Homo sapiens: one gene and its partner. The protein of the gene in region 1 binds, or shares a complex with, the protein of each later gene. Each region holds a gene or a part of one and is shown on either strand. Other genes may lie near its edges. The genes, in order: CRHR2 and GNA11. A codon is read from its position in the direction of its gene.

The links.
Region 2: the proteins of CRHR2 (region 1) and GNA11 are in contact, whole or in part, in a cryo-EM structure (PDB 7TRY), measured with the Homo sapiens proteins. Residues at the interface, in NP_001874.2 of Homo sapiens: Arg148, Tyr208, Leu209, Ala212, Ile213, Thr216, Glu220, Lys293 (codon at 2,900), Lys307 (codon at 3,153), Ala311 (codon at 3,165), Phe358 (codon at 3,805), Tyr359 (codon at 3,808), Phe362 (codon at 3,817), Asn363 (codon at 3,820); in NP_002058.2 of Homo sapiens: Arg37, Ile348, Leu349, Asn352, Leu353, Glu355, Tyr356, Asn357, Leu358.

The regions. Positions count from the first base shown.
Region 1 is NC_000007.14:30,650,729-30,658,866, reverse strand, and holds the end of CRHR2 (corticotropin-releasing factor receptor 2), read left to right. Parts: exon of another isoform or gene 1-2,854; coding exon 2,855-2,940; exon of another isoform or gene 2,941-3,151; coding exon 3,152-3,287; exon of another isoform or gene 3,288-3,786; coding exon 3,787-3,828; exon of another isoform or gene 3,829-3,985; coding exon of another isoform or gene 3,986-4,003; exon of another isoform or gene 4,004-4,058; coding exon of another isoform or gene 4,059-4,127; exon of another isoform or gene 4,128-4,728; intron 4,729-5,266; coding exon 5,267-5,407; 3' UTR 5,408-6,925; downstream 6,926-8,138. UniProt on the Homo sapiens protein: G-protein coupled receptor for CRH (corticotropin-releasing factor), UCN (urocortin), UCN2 and UCN3. Has high affinity for UCN.
Region 2 is NC_000019.10:3,110,860-3,118,997, reverse strand, and holds part of GNA11 (guanine nucleotide-binding protein subunit alpha-11), read right to left. Parts: intron 5,669-8,138; coding exon 5,514-5,668; intron 4,055-5,513; coding exon 3,926-4,054; intron 75-3,925; coding exon 1-74. UniProt on the Homo sapiens protein: Guanine nucleotide-binding proteins (G proteins) function as transducers downstream of G protein-coupled receptors (GPCRs) in numerous signaling cascades.

The DNA of each region.
Region 1 (8,138 bases):
TGCTAAGAGACACTCACTTATTTCTGGTTCTGAGAAGTGAATCAGGTGGTTGAATTTGCAGGAAGCCTGACTTCTTGCTGGTGTTGTCATTGTTGGTGTCATGGGAAAGGATTGGCAGTCACTAGGCCAGACACAGGTCTTAGTGGTCTCTGTGACTATTTCAGCCCATGCTGATCTTCTAAGGCAAGCTCTGTGGTTAGGCCCCTCGGGGGCAGACAAGGAAGCAGGAGCTCATGAGGTTAAGCAACTTACCCAAGGCCACACAACTGCAAATTGGAACAGTCAAAATTTGAGCCATGAGACTAGGACTTGGTGCTTCAGTTCATTTGGGAGGGGGGCCTCATCTTCAGTTCTTAGCCCATCTGCCATTTCTCCAGGTCTTTTTGACACCTTAGGAAAGATGTCATCTCCCCCACCCCCAACCCCTCCAGGCCCCCAGCTAGGCCACAAGCCCTCTGCAAGCAGGGGCTGTGACTGCCTGTCCACTTCGCCATCGCTGATGCCTGGCTCAGAGCCTGACACATGGTCCATTGATTCATTGAATGAATGAACAATTAAATAAAACCAGAAACAGGCTGAACGAGGGCAGGGTACAATAGACAGTTCTTACTAAAGAACTGGAGTGTGTTTTTAGCAGGGAGGTAGAGTCCAAGAATGGAAAGCCGGAGAGCTCAGTGTGGGCAGGGTGACCAGAAGGCTCCCTGGAGAGAGAGGAAGGTACCTGTGGTGGTGTGAAGGGGGAGGCTGGGAAACAGGCTCAAAGGAAAGAAGGATTTTCAGGTTACATAGACCCAAGCTGAGATGAGTGGGGCCACATAACTAAATGTCTGCCAAGTGTAAGGATGGAGACAAGGCCTTGGTTGCTAGGTAGATGAATGGATAGACGGATGGGCCAGTGGATGGGCAGATAAAAGAGTAGGTGGATAACTGAATGGATTGGTTATTGGGTAGGTAGATGGATGGGTAGATGGATGGGTACGTGGATGGATAGATAAAACAGTAGGTGGATAATTGAATGAATTGGTTGTTGGGTAGATGGATGGATGGATGGAAGGAAGGAAGGATGAATGGATGAATGGCTGGATGGATGGATGGATGGACGGATGGATAAAAGTAGGTGGGTAAATGAATGAACTGGTTGGTAGGTAAGTGGATAGATGGATAGATGAATAAAGTGGGTGGATAATTGAATTGATTAGTGGGTTGATGGATGTTGGAAGATTAATATTGAATTCAAGAAAATGTGGCAGAAATGAGAATATATTTTGATTCCAACAGTTTCTACTCTCAGGGAAGTCCGGAAGAATCAGAAAAGGTCAAATACTTTGTATTACTTGTATGAGAAAATTAGGATTCACTTATATGTTAAGGTGACTTGTGTCCCATGATCCAGGGGAATATGCCAGAGACCCAGGAGCTGGAAATTAGGTGAGCCCTAGGAGAAAGCTGGGGGTATCAGGTCATGGCAGCCCCGCTGAAGGCTTTCCATCCCCAGCCCTCCCTGGGACCCCCAGGCCATACCACTATGTGGTAAGAGAGCAGTAGACAGTGGCTGAGGTGGGGTGTGAGCTCTCCCTGCCCCTAGGGCTACCCGAAAGCTTGTGGGGAGCATCCAGAGGCTACAGGTTGACAGTCTCAGGATATCTGTCTGTATCCTGTGTCCCTCCTCTCCCAGCCAGGATTCAGAACTTGGGAGGGTTAGAAGGGCCCAGCCCAAGCTTAAGAAGCAATGGATTTTCTTGACAGAGTGTCAGAGGTGTGTGTGTGTGTGTGTGTGTGTGTGAGTGGGTGTGTGCACACGAGCCAGCAGACACCCCTGGGCTAACATGTGTCTCCCTCTGGCCCACGAGCACTTTGTCAGGAAACAGCCCCACTGTGTCAGGCCGACACACACTCCCTTGCCTGCCTGCCTGCCTATGCTCGGAGGCAGGTGAAGAGAAACGCAGATGTGCCCGGGCCCCAGATCCATGCTCACACATGCACACGCTCTGTGAGGCAAACACACTTGCACAAGTGCTTAAAGGATAGACCCACAGACCCACACTGCAGCTCCCAGGGGACAACACAGTCATAGTCACAGCCAATACAGATGAACAGACACTCGCAGGCCCATGGGGACCCACACCCAGCAGGGAGCAGCTGGGGAGCCACACAGGCCAGTTCCAGGGCCAGGTGCTGGGTGGGGAGGCTCTGGTGCTGAGGGAAAACTCAGAATGAAGATAAATGAGGCCCTTCCTGGGGCCTCAGAGCCAGCCCCACAGCCCATCCATCTTCCCTGTCTAGGGTGCCTACGAAGGCTCTGGAGTTCCTGGGCACAGGGGTGGGATGCTGGCAGATTAATCACTCATTCGGCAACTGAGTTCTTAATCCCTCCATCTGGCCTTGTCCGCCCCACCATGGCAGTGCTGTCCTCAGTCAGAAGGACCTCAGGCCGACCTAGAGCCAGTGACAGTGCAAGGGACTCAGAGAGCCCCGCAGTCAACAAGTAGGGACCCCGTGGCAGTGAGGGGAAGGGGGCTCCCATAGGGTCCCTATACTGGGGAGAGGGTTGGGGGCTTTCTCAGCCTCAGAGGGCATGCCCCGTGCTCTCGGTCACGACCCACAGAGGCTGCCACCTTTCCTCCTCAGTCCTGGGCTGGAGACACAGGCCCTGGAAAATGGGGCTGTCTCCCCATCCTGGCGAGGGAGGAGCACAGGCCTTGGGATGCTGGCAGGTGCTAGGGGGACAGGTAGGATAGGTGTGTGCGTGGGACATCGGTTTCCAGGGGTCTGCGGGGAAGGGGGCTGCCTCTCGGCTCATCTCAAACACGTGCTCCTTCCTTTTCCCTCTTTCCCATGCCCGCCCTCCCTCCAGATCAATTTCGTATTTCTGTTCAACATCGTCAGGATCCTAATGACAAAGTTACGCGCGTCCACCACATCCGAGACAATCCAGTACAGGTATGTGAGGGGGTCCCTTGACCCCACAATGGGGACAGGAGGAGGTCATCGGGCCGTCCCCCTGCTTCCTGGCAGAGCCCTCTGCCCCAGGCCTCACCCAGGGAGCTCGCTCAAGCTCCCGGAAGAAACACCACCACTGTCTCCCGCCGCCCACTGGGTGAGGCCCTGCCTGCCGCATGGGCTCAGACCTGTGTCCACCTCTCGCCCCCAGGAAGGCAGTGAAGGCCACCCTGGTGCTCCTGCCCCTCCTGGGCATCACCTACATGCTCTTCTTCGTCAATCCCGGGGAGGACGACCTGTCACAGATCATGTTCATCTATTTCAACTCCTTCCTGCAGTCGTTCCAGGTGGGGCCTGTGACCAGATGGGGGCCCCACAGTGAGCTTTCCTGAGGCTGCTCTGGCAGCCATGCCCTCACTAAGGGGGTCCCGTGGGACTGGCACACCCATGGCTCAGTTACATCCACAGAGTTAGAAGCCCGTACATGCTCAGCCTGAGCCTGGCCAGTTATCCCCATCCCAGCCTGGGTCTTCATCCTACCAGCCCGCACCTACTGTCCCAGCACCTGTTCTGAGGATGCAGGCAGCCCAACCAAATGCCCTGGGACAGGTCACACAATATTGAGGAGACCGGAGTCTGCCTGGCTCCAGGCCTGTGACCACTGCTCACTCAGAGTGGACCGTGGAATATCTGCACCCTGAGGCTAGGACCCCACCCAGCTCTGACTCCAGGGGTTCCTGGGTCAAATTGTCCCCCCCCCACCATCTTGTCCCCAGTGCCACCCCACCAGGCAGAACAGCTCCGCAGGTAGGTCACTGACCACTCCCTCCTTTCCCTCCTTTCCAGGGTTTCTTCGTGTCTGTCTTCTACTGCTTCTTCAATGGAGAGGTATGAAGCTGGGCCCTCGGGGTGGCCTGGGATATCCAGGTCCTCAGACCCCACTCCAGGGCAGCTCCATTGGTGCTGCCCGGCCTTGCTGGAGTGCCAGGGAGAGGAAGCCTTGAGATACCACCCGGCCTTAGGGGAACAGGAATCCTTCTCACAGGGGCTGGAGCCAGTTTAGAAGGTCAACTATGCAGCCCCGAAATAACATGCCAGCACCCCACATGTGCACTCAGAGCTGGGTGAGCAAGGAAGCCCAGGCCGCAGGGCCTCATGGAAGAGAGAAGCCAGAGCAGAGGTGGTGACAGAAGGAAGCTTCCAGAAAGAGATGTGTGCCAAGCAATCAGGTCTGTATGGACTCAGGGAGCAGAAGAGAGACCAGCACATTCCCCCGCTACCTGCCACAGAAAAGCCCACACACCAAGAGCAGGCTCTGGGGAGTCAGGCGGCCGTGAAGCTTGGCATGTGCAAGCCAATCATGAGGCCCAAAGCCCCAGTGCAGCTGACGCAGGGAAGAAGCGCACTCGTACCTGGGCTGGGGTGGATGAGGACATGGAGCAAAGAGCAGACACAGCCCCTAGGGCCTGGGAGCTTCCGAACACTCCAGAGGAATACACTTGCCTGTCTCTGCACAGGGCACTGGCGAGGTGTCTATGCAGGCCTGTGTCTCTGTGGATGATAGCACATTCCACTTGCAAAGTCCATCAGCAGAGACGGGTCCTGTGGGCTGGATGAGAAGAAGAGAGGGGGCCAGTAAGGCAAACAAACAAGGGATGTTTATGGAGCATTTATTCTGTTCGAACCATGTGCAAGCTAGGATGTGAGAGACACCATCCAATTTCCAAAAAAATTCAATTACCAAACAAATGAAGCTTAAATGGCACCGGGTAGAGCCAACTTTAGAAATGACCAAGACAGAGAGCTTTCCCTTTCAGGCAGTAAATGCCATGGTTAGTCAGGCAGGGGAGTCTAGCAGGAGGTAGAGAAGGTGGAGGGGTGCAGAGGGGACGGTCTTCAGGAGGGAGGAGGAGGCGCACCAGGTGTGTGAGCTGGGCGCACACCACCAACGCCCTGCAAGGAGCAGGGGCCCAAGAAGGCTGAGGGGGCCAAGTCTCCAAGCTGCGCTCTCTGGTCCCAAGATGCTAATTTTGAGGTGGCAGAGTGAGTCAGGGAAGGGAAGGCAGTGTGTCCAGAGGAAACTGGATGATCTGGGAGGACAGTGTGGAGTAAAGGAGGTGTGGAGTCAAGCTTCTCCAGGAAAAGGATAAGGAAGAGGCCCCTGGAGAGAGGCAACAGCATCAGGGAAGGACCTGTTTTGGAAGCAGACAGTTCCTTGTCATGAGGGTGGCAGTCGACCCATGAGAGCAGAAAGCAGAGGAGGGGATGGTCCCAGAAGCCCAGGGTTGGTCCCTGGGAGCCAGCTGAGCCTCTGCCTTCCCCACAGGTGCGCTCAGCCGTGAGGAAGAGGTGGCACCGCTGGCAGGACCATCACTCCCTTCGAGTCCCCATGGCCCGGGCCATGTCCATCCCTACATCACCCACACGGATCAGCTTCCACAGCATCAAGCAGACGGCCGCTGTGTGACCCCTCGGTCGCCCACCTGCACAGCTCCCCTGTCCTCCTCCACCTTCTTCCTCTGGGTTCTCTGTGCTGGGCAGGCTCTCGTGGGGCAGGAGATGGGAGGGGAGAGACCAGCTCTCCAGCCTGGCAGGAAAGAGGGGGTGCGGCAGCCAAGGGGGACTGCAAGGGACAGGGATGAGTGGGGGCCACCAGGCTCAGCGCAAGAGGAAGCAGAGGGAATTCACAGGACCCCCTGAGAAGAGCCAGTCAGATGTCTGCAGGCATTTGCCCATCCCAGCCTCTCTGGCCAGGGCCTTACTGGGCCCAGAGCAGAGAAGGACCTGTCCAACACACACAGCTATTTATAGTAGCAGACACAGGGCTCCCCTGCCCTACTCATGGAGCCAGCAGCCAGGCAATGGTGTGGCCCTGCACTGGCCCTTGGCCTCCACACTCAGTGGTGCCCCTGCAGTTGGGTGGGGTACGCCAGCAAAGGATCAGTTTGGCTGCCTTATCCCAGGGGCTGTCACCTAGAGAGGCTCACTTGTACCCCACCCTTGTTCCTGTGTCCCCTCCCCAGCCATCCTCCCGCCTTGGGGGCTCCATGAAGGATGCAGGCTTCCAGGCCTGGCTTCCTCTCTTGGGAGACCCCTTCTCTGCCTAGTCCACAGATTAGGCAATCAAGGAAGACGCCATCAGGGAAGCCACATCCTTAGTCAACCAGTTGCATCGTGCGGGGCAAAATGAGGAGCAGAGGCATGGAGGAGGGAGGCGTGGGATGGGAATAGCAGAAACCAACCATGTCTTCAGTGATTGAAACTCATACCCCATTGCCCTTTGCCCTCCAGTCTCCCCTTCAGAAACATCTCTGCTCTCTGTGAAATAAACCATGCCTCTTGGAAGTGGCCTCCCCTCAGGTCAAGTCACCCAGGCACCCGAAGAGTGGTGTGGGCCAAGGATCGTGGCTGGGTCTGAGGGGGCCACATCCATCTTCCTTAGTGGGCTCGGGCCCTGGCCTCGGGCCAGTTCTCTCTCTCTCTGACCTCTGGTAGGTTTGGAGTCTTTATGGTCAAAGCACCTGCAGGCGGGTCTGTCCCTTATCACTCCAACCAGGCTAATACCTGGCCCCAGCCCCCAACCAAGGGCAGCTTGATTCAGCCTGGAGGAGGTGTGCAGCTCATCCAGCAAGCCAGGGCCTGTCCCAAAGGCCAAGGCTCTGGAATCTGGTGGGCAGGGTAGACATGGCCCCTCAGTTGACCACCAGGGCAGCTTCCAGGCTTGGCTTCCGTCCCTGTGTCCCTGCAGCGGAGCCGCAGGAGTCAGGGAGAGAGAAGCATCAGGCCATTTCTTCCAAAAGAAACCAATGCTCTAGGTACCCCCTACAAAAATAAGTTTTGAAAAATCATGTATCCCGTCTTGCACATTTTTAAGTTGACATGTAGTATTTTTTACTTAAGTTTTAAATCCTTCAAAGGTGTGATTTCTGCCATTTTGTAAATATTTACATTTTTAAATAAAACTGCTGCAACAATTTAAAATACATCAAATGAATTCTGATCACCATGGTGATTTAACACCCACCCTCATCTATTTTAAAAACACCTGACCCAGCTCTCCTTCTTCTTCTTTTTTTTTTTTTTTTTTTTGAGACAGGGTCTCACTCTGTCATCCAGGCTAGGGTGCAGTGGCAAGATCTCAGTTCACTGCAACCTCCACTTCCCAGGCTCAGGTGATCTTCCCAACCCAGCCTCCCGAATAGCTGGGACTACAGGCACGCACCACCATGCTGGGCTAATTTTTGTATTTTTTTGTAGAGACAGGGTCTGGTCATGTTGCTCAGGCTGGCCAGCTCCGCTTTAATTGTGGGAAATGTTACATTGTTTCTTTCCTCTTTAATGTGTAGCTTCATTCCATTGCCCTATAGAATTTTATACTAATGCATTACTTTTATGGCTGAAAGTGTTTTATTGCTCACTTTGTCATACTTCTCTGCCACACAATATATGTATGAATGAAAATTAAAATATTTCATTTTCTATGACCAAAGTTTCAAGGGATTTTAAAATAATCTTCTGGGTTGAATTATTACAATTATTTTTTGATACAAAATACAGTAAGCCACTGATTAAAACAACATAGATACCTAAAGTTTTTATAAGTAACTAGTTAAACCTAAAAAGGAAAATGTATTGAAAACACAGCTTAATGAAATGGATAGGAAGTTAATGGCTCATGAATCTACAGGTGAATATTTATTGCTAGAATAAATCAGGACTCAGCATCAATTCTTTTCTTTTTTAATGTTTTATTGTTTATAGTGGGGTGTGCTGAGAAGCCTTTTCAATTCAGTAGATGATCTGGCACTCCAGATAGTCAATTCTCTATACTCTTGCTGAGATGTACAGTCAAAACTGCATAGTGATCTGTCACCAAAAATGACCTATCAGCTGGCTGTTTAATTAAGTGTCCTTTCAATTTGGCTGAAAAAGATGAACTGAACGTTATCTGACTTGCAGTAGGCTTTGGGCGCCCATGTCATCAGCTCATTCCATTTTTCACCACCAGCTGTGTGGGAATGCACTGCAGGTTAAGTGTGAGCCCTGCTTCTCTTGTCAAGAGGGCAGGGAGGTTGGGGCACCCTGATTTTATTTTCTCAAGTGACAGAACTCAGAACTCAGGGTATCTTAGAAAGTCTTACTGCATACCCAGTGGCAGCATGATGGCCGCATCCATTAGCATCATCAGGGCTCTTGTA
Region 2 (8,138 bases), on another chromosome or scaffold:
TGATGGATGTCACGTTCTCAAAGCAGTGGATCCACTTCCTCCGCTCCGACCGCTGGCCCCCCACATCCACCATCCTGAAAGGACACAGCGCCAGGACTCAGCCACCTGGCGCCCCAAGGCCCAATCTGCAATCCCAGGACGGCTCCCACCCAAGCCCCTCCTGCCACACCAGACTGACATCGGCTGGAGCAGGAAGAGCCCCCACTCTTAGAACGGGCAAGGACGCTCTCAGAGAGCGGCCGCACCGCCTCCAGGGGTGACCACCGCAGACCCTTCCCTCACTGGCAAAGGGGCCTGAGACCACTGGGCCCAGGGAAGCGGGCGCTAGTGTGGGGGTGTGAGAACCCAGAGGATTCTGGGCGCCAGCTGCTGCGGGAACCTGCGATGGGTGCCCAGGGACCCTACATCTGGCATCTGGATGTCACCCTGAGCACAGAAGCCTTTCCCCTCACTGGGCCAGGGACACAGATGTTCACCAAGCGTCACTCGCAGGAGTAAACACTGATGCCACAGTTGCTCCCTGCAGGGACCCTCCAGTGACGGCTGCAGAGGGCAGAGTTGCCGGTATCCTCCTGGGGCAGAAGAGCAGGCGCAGCGCCCTGCCCCGCGTGGTGAGCAGCTCAACCTCACACTCTCAGGCCACGCACAGGCGGGAGAAAGAAAATCAGCTCAGACGATGTCTGCGGGCGTGCGTTCCTTACGGGACGTTTGCCTCTTTCTACTTGTGACTTTTCTAAGTTTTCTATAACGAGAAAAGGCACTTTGGTCTCCTTGAAAGAATACAAAGGCAGAAGCGGAGAGTGCCCCTCAGGCCCTGGCCCCAGGCCCCAGGGAAGGCCGGGGTCCCTGCAACTCTGCCGAGGAGAGCGGGGCTGCTTTGGGCATGTGAGTGGTGAAATCCACCTGGTCTGGTCTGCGGGGGAGTCCAGCAGGCACCGGTGGATGACAGATGTGCCAGGTGACTCTAAGGGACAAGAGGGCCCGCACCAGCAGCTGTGGCCAGGCGGGAGGACAGTGGGTGTGCCGACACCAGGCCACAGCCCGTCTGGAGCGCGAGGCCTCTCCTGCACGCCTGCGGCGGCCGGCAGGGCTGGGATCCGGGTCCCCCCGTGTCTTGTCCCCACCTGAGGGAGCAGGAGCCTCTCCTCACGCACTGGGACGATCCCACCGGCCTTCAAGGCCTCCAGCTGCATCCCACAGCACCTGGCCGGCCCTCTGCCAGCGTGTGGTGGACAGAGGCGGCTGGCAGAGAAACAATGGTGGCAGAGGAGTAGGCTCAGGACGGGGGTCTGCACCCGGCACAGAGGGCACAGCCGGGCCGGGCGCGGTGGCTCACGCCTGTAATCCCAGCACTTTGGGAGGCCGAGGCAGGCGGATCACGAGGTCAGGAGGTCGAGACCATCCTGGCTAACATGGTGAAACCACATCTCTACTAAAAAGTACAAAAAATTAGCCAGGCGTGGTGGCGGGCGTCTATAGTCCCAGCTACTCGGGAGGCTGAGGCAGGAGAATGGCGTGAACCCGGGAGGCGGAGCTTGCAGTGAGCCCAGATTGCACAGCTGCACTCCAGCCTGGGCGACAGAGCAAGACTCCGTCTCAAAAAAAAGAAAAGGGCACAGCTGGAGCTGGGAAGGGCCTGGAAGATGGTGGAGAGGGGGTGACACACCCAGCCTGAGCTCAGCTCAGGGAGGGGACAGGACATTTCTGACAGAGGACACAGAGGCCTGCGCTGTTAAGAGGCCAGCGTGGGGCTGTGAGGGGACATTCATGCCACAACCTGGCCTATGCCTGGCTCGCCTCAGCTGTATCCTGGGGTCATGGGCCCCGTGTGAATAAAAAAGAAGAAAAACTTGAATTCTCGTAACAATATACACCATCGCCCATGTCCAGAGAGGACACCGCAGCTTCTGAGGGCCCAGCGCCTGCTCGGGTCCCCGGGAACCATCCCAGAGCTTGGCATTCCTTGGCTTGTGGCCACATTGCTCCATCCCTGCCTCCATCTTCACGCCGCATCCTCCCTGCCTGCGCTGGGAGGCCGAGCTGGGAGGACGGGTGGGGAGAACAGGCAGATGGCAGGGGGTGGCACCCCCAGCCCTGGGGTGGGTCTCAAGGCAGGGCTCTCGAGGAAAACCCCACAGACTTCCCGGAACCCTCACAATGGCCTCGGCAGTGCACCAGCTGGGTGGGGACACCCTGGCAGGGAGGCGTCATTCCCTCATGAGGGCCAGTGCCAGGGCGAGCTTGCACTGCAGGAGAAGGCACCCGCAACCGGAGCCACCGCGAGGCCCTCCAGGACAGAGCCGTCTAGCGCCCCACACGCACGAACACCAGAACCCGGGGACGGCTCTGATCTGGAAACAGGGTCTGTGCGGATGTCACTGGTTAGGATAACGTCACACAGAGGTAGGGTGGCCCTGGCCAAGGACAGGTTATAAGAGAACAGAGGCAAAGGCGCAGGCGGGGAGGACGCTGCATGAGGATGGGGGCAGGGATGAGGCAACCCGGCCACAAGCCAAGGATGCCAAGGATGCCAAGGATGCCAAGGATGCGGCCGCCACTAGGAGCCGAGTGAGGCCTGGGCAGATCCCCTCAGCCTCAGAAGGACCTGGCCCGGCCCACACCTGCATCTCAGCCTTCTGGCCTCCAGCACTGGGCGGGAATAAGGCCTGCGGTGGGAGTCTCACGCCCGACACCAGCAGCCCAGGACAGGCACGCATAAAGCCGGGACCTCAGCGCTGGAGATGTTATATGGGGCCAGGAGACAGGCAGGCAGGGTCCACGTTCCCAGGGACAGCAGAGTCCAGCCAGCTGAGCAGCCTACCAGACACAGGACCCACTGAGGGTCCCCAGGGAGAACCCGGCTCTGCTGGCCGGCCCCCAGCCACAGTGGACCTGGAGCCCCGGAGGCCCAGCAGGATCCGCAGGGGCAGCCCGTGAAGAACAGAATCCACCCCACACCACCCAGCTCCTCCACCCCAGCCTGGAGCCCTCCTCCCCACTCAGTCCCTATGACCCCTCCTCCCCTCAAAGCCTCGGTCCCCACGACCCCTCCTCCCCTCACAGCCTCGGTCCCCATGACCCCTCTTCCCTGACAGCCTCGGCCCCTATGACCCCTCCTCCCCTCACAGCCTCAGTCCCTATGACCCCTCCTCCCCACTCAGTCCCTATGACCCCTCCTCCACTCACAGCCTCGGTCCCCGTGACCCCCCCCCTCCCCTCACAGCCTCGGTCCCTATGACCCCTCCTCCCCTCACAGCCTCGGTCCCCATGAGCCCCCTCCCCTGGCAGCCTCAGTCCCTATGACCCCTCCCGCACCATGCGGCACCCCCTGCTCCGGCCAGCACTCCAGACCCCAGCCCCATGCTGGCTCCAACCAGGCCCCCGGCCCGTCCTGGAGGCCCTGTCAAATGTCCTCCCTGCCAGGTCTCTTCGGCTGCCGGTCTGGATGGATGTGGCCACGCCCCCCACACCCCCACAGCTCCTTCCCTGTGTGGCCCTGGCTCACACATACTTAGAGATAAATCTTATCCCCTGACCTGGTCAAACACACACTGAGGATGAAGACCAATGGGCTTTCTTTTGTTTAATAAGACGAAACAGGGTCTCCCTCTGTCGCCCAGGCTGGAGTCCAGTGGTGCCATCATGGCTCACTTCAGCCTCAACCTCCTGGGCTTGAGCGATCCTCCTGCCTCAGCCTCCTGAGTAGCTGGGACCACAGGTGCACACAACCACGCCCAGCTAATTTTTAAAATTTTTTTTAGATATGAGGTCTGGCTATGTTGCCCAGGGTGGTCTCAAACTCCTGGACTCAGGCGATCCTCCCGCCTTGGCCTCCCAAAGCACTGGGTGCGCAGGCATGAGCCGGCACACCGGGCAAATGAGCCTCTCAGTGCCCCCTCCCCGCCTGCTGTGGCCCGGGCGGTACCGGAAGATGATGTTCTCCAGGTCGAAAGGGTACTCGATGATGCCGGTGGTGGGCACGCGGACCCGCAGCACGTCCTGCTGGGTGGGCAGGTAGCCCAAGGTGGCGATGCGGTCAACGTCGGTCAGGTAGCTGCAACACAGCGGTGGGTGCTCAGGCCGGCTGCCGGGGGTGGGGGGGCAGGACAGGGACACAGCACCCAAACCAGCGGGAGGACGGAAAGCCACCAGGAGGGGGTGGACCGCGCACTGCGCCACCTACGGCAGTGTCTGAAGCAGCCCGGAGGGCTCGGGCCAATGGAGACCCTGGGGTCGGGATACGAGCCTCCCAACCTCTATCCTCTCTGGGGTCTCAGGGGACAGAAATGACCCAGCACAAGAGAAAGTCCCAGGACGAGGACTCCAGCTGGTTCGGGGGGTTTGTAGTAGAGCTGTCCAGAGACGGCCACCAAGGAGGGAGACGGTGACCCAGGGCAGGGGACTTCCCGAGAGAGGCCTGGCTGGCCCCAGGGATGAGGCTTCACAAACAAGCGCATCATTAGGAGAGTCGCAGCTGCAGAGGCTGCAGAGGTCCCAGCAGATCCCCGTGCCCGTCTCCCTGCTGCTCCCTGTACGTGGGTGCGGCACCCACCACGAGCAATGAGCCAGTGTCTACACAGCGCAGCTACTGAAGTCCACGCTTGATTCCGGCTTCCTTGGTTCCCCTCATGCCTTTTCCTGCCCAGCCCTCTGGGTTGGGACAGTTTCCCGTTTTTGACGCCCTGGGCAGTCCTGAGTGGGGCGCCCCTCGAGTGGTCTGCCTGGGGTGGGGGTTGTAAGAGGCCGGGTGCCTGCTCAGACCTTTCCGGCACCGCGAGGAGGCCCTGGCGTTTTGTTCCAAGTGCTTGGTTATCTGGGCCCTCCCACAACCTCCCAGAGGCAGGGAACACACAGAGGACGGGCAGGAGGGGCGGGGGACAGGCCTGTCCCTGTCGCCTTAGGGTCTCTCCCGGTGCTGGGGGAGGGCCGGGGCCTCTGCCTGCCAAGCATGGAGGGCAGCAGTGCACAGCCTGCCACGCGGGGGCCTCCACCTGCGGCCATGGCCCGGCCACCTGTCAGCACACAAGTCACCCCCTATCCCAGGCCCAGAGACTGGGAGAACCCTGACATCAGTCAAGGTCACAGCCAGTCACTAGTGGGAGACGTGGCTCTGGGGACGATGTCCCAGGCAGGAGCGAGACGGCCCAGGTTGTGTCTACCTCCCATCCCACGGCCCTCCTAGGAGACCCTGGGTTTCCCCCACAGGCCACAGGCCGGGCTCCAGCACCGAGGGTGGCCAGGAGCTCACTCCTGACCCAGGGAGGGCAGCGGCAGGGCCAGGCATACAAGCAGGCCAGTGTCACACCAGAGTCCACCGGCTCCTGCCAAGGCGTGGCCCCTCCAGGGATCTGCTCTGGTCCCTCCATCCGGCCAGGTGGCCCGGGCCCACCGCATCCCTGCCCCCGGCGAGCAGGCAGGGGGCACCACAGACGCCGCGGAGGCCTTCCCGAAGGGTCCCAGGCACCGGCCCGCAGCTGCCGTCCCCAGGCCGCCAGCGGTGCGGCCGCACTTACTACTTGGCAGAGTCGGAGAGCTGGTACTCGCGCCTGCGGTCGTAGCATTCCTGGATGCCCGGGTCCTCCCACAGGGTCTTGATGGCACTGACGTACTGATGCTCGAAGGTGGTCACCTTCTCCACGTCCACCTCCCGGATCAGGAGCGCATTGGCCTGCGAGGGCGGGCAGGGGAGACGTCGAGAGCTCGCTGGGGCCACACATCCACCAGAAAGCTTGTGACGGCCCCTCTTCCAGGCCTCGGCTGGCCCGGGCGGCATTCCGCAGGCTGTGCAGTCAGGACCACTGACAGTTCCGTGTGAACACGTGTCAGAAAAACGCGAGGCCGCCTGGCGGTGTGGTTCCTCCGAACAAGGCCCCACAAGCAAAGCCTCCCGGCGGTGCGGTCTGCAGGGTGCCGGGGAGGCCGGGCTTCGATTCACTTCTTAGAGGTGGGGAGGGGACGGTGTGGGGAACAAGCACGTGTAGAACACACACACTTCAAACCCAGGACCCACAGGAGGGCAGTGCAGCGCCGAGCACGACCAAGCACGACGACAGAACTAACCAACAGCCCCAGCACTCGCTGCCTCGAATTCTCCAGACACACCGGGAGGCAGGAAGCCCAGTCACAGGACGTTGCAACCAGCGGCATCGCCTGCAGTGTGCAGCTCCAGACTCGGTTTCTGCCCCGCCGGCTTCTCTCTTTCGTCCGAAAAATGCTTATCAAACATCATCAAGAGCAGATACCACACCCGGTGCTAAGGACGGCGTGTGGCCCCCGAGCTGCCGCACTCAACAGTTTACATGGTGCCCCAACACGAGCCGCCTCCCCCTCACGGAACCCTGGGCGGCGGGTGGCATCAGGCCCCAGCTTGCTGCCCTGTCACAAAGGAAGGCCAACCGCACAGACACGTGCTTGCACACACATGTGAACACCCTTTGGGGCAGACACTGTGGGGGGGCCATCCTTTCCCCTCCTGATGCTCTGTGTCCCCGTCCCCGGGGCGCACAGGCCGACATGACCAGCCACAGTTTGGCTGAGGGACTGGGGAGGGGACATACTGGGTGGGACCCAGATGGGAAAGAAGGGAGCCTTGCCCTGGGCTCTGGGAGCCACGGGGCCCTCCCAGGCCCCCCAGAGTGGAGACTCAGCCCTTGCTTGTCCCCTCTGAGCAACGCTCCCTGCCCCGGACTCCGACTTCAGCCCTCCCCTTGCCCTGCCCCCAGCCTCTCAATCTGGGCTGGGATAAGCACACCTAGGGGGACTTGGAAAAAGAGACACAAACCCCAAAAATCCCACTCCCTGGAAACTTCCAGATTAGACAGCAGCAATCTGCTTCTGCAGAGAGCCAGAGAGCACACCCAGCCTTCCCGACCACACGGACTGTCTCCAGCACTCGGCTCTGCTGCTGCTGCTGAAGCACCATGGGCAACATGGCAGAAATGGGTATGTGCCAATAAAACTTTATCGACAAAATCAGTCTGCAGTTTGCAGATGCGTGTTTCAGAAGCTGATGGAGATCTAAGCCCAAATATGAATATGGACTCTCAGAGAGGGCCACAGCTGGAAGAGATCACAGCGGGAGACAGGGCAAGTGGCAAACCAAGATCTAAGGGCAAGAGCCCTACCCCTGAAAGCAGGGCTACGAAAGCGGGATCAATGGCCCCTCAGCTGAAAGGCCCCAGGGAGGCCACTGGCAGGAGCCACGGCTGCACGGCTGCTGGGCCTGCCCCATAGGGCGGCCACTGGGGCAAACTCTCTGGACGCTTCTCAGAGGGCAAAGCCAGAGTCACCCTGGGACCCAGCAATTCTGCTCCCAGGCGTAGCATGCAACTGAGGGAAGGGAACACATCATCCACATAAACACACGTCCACAGACGGTCACGGCAGCTCCGTTCCCAACAGCCCACACATGAAGGCACTCAAATGTCCTCCAGGGGATAAATGGGCAAATACGCGGTCCCTCCATGCACTGGAACATGACTCAGCCATGAACAGGGACGAGGCTCTGACACAGGCCACTGTGTGGATGCACCTTGAGGACGTCACACTCAGTGAGAGACGCCGGACACAAAAGGCCACATGGCGTGCAATCCCATTTCTATGAAATGTTCAGGACAGACCGATCCACAGAGGCAGGAAGGGGATGTGTGGGTGCCGGGGCTGGAGGAGGGGGTGGGAGTGACGGCCGATGGGGAAGGGGCTTCCTTTGAGAAAATGAAATCTGGAATCCGACAGCGGTGATGGCTGCACGACTATGCAAACATATCGAAAACCACCAAATTATACACTTTAAGCAAGTGAAGTGCATAGAATGTGAATTATAACTCAATAAAGCTGTGATTTAAAAACAGGGCATCAAATGACCTCTACTTTATCAAAAAAAAAAGAAAAAAAACCAGGGCGGAGGCCAGGCATGGTGGCTCATACCTGTAATCCCAGCACTTTGGGAGGCCAAAGCGGGAGGACTGCTTGAGCCCAGGAGTTCAAGACCAGCCTGGGCAACATGGTGAAATTCCATCTCTACAAAAAATACAAAAATTAGCTAGGCGTGGTGATGCACCTGCAGTCCCAGCTACCCGGGAGGCTGTGGTGGGATCACCTGAGCCCAGAAGGTCCAGGCTGTGATGAGCCTTGACCAT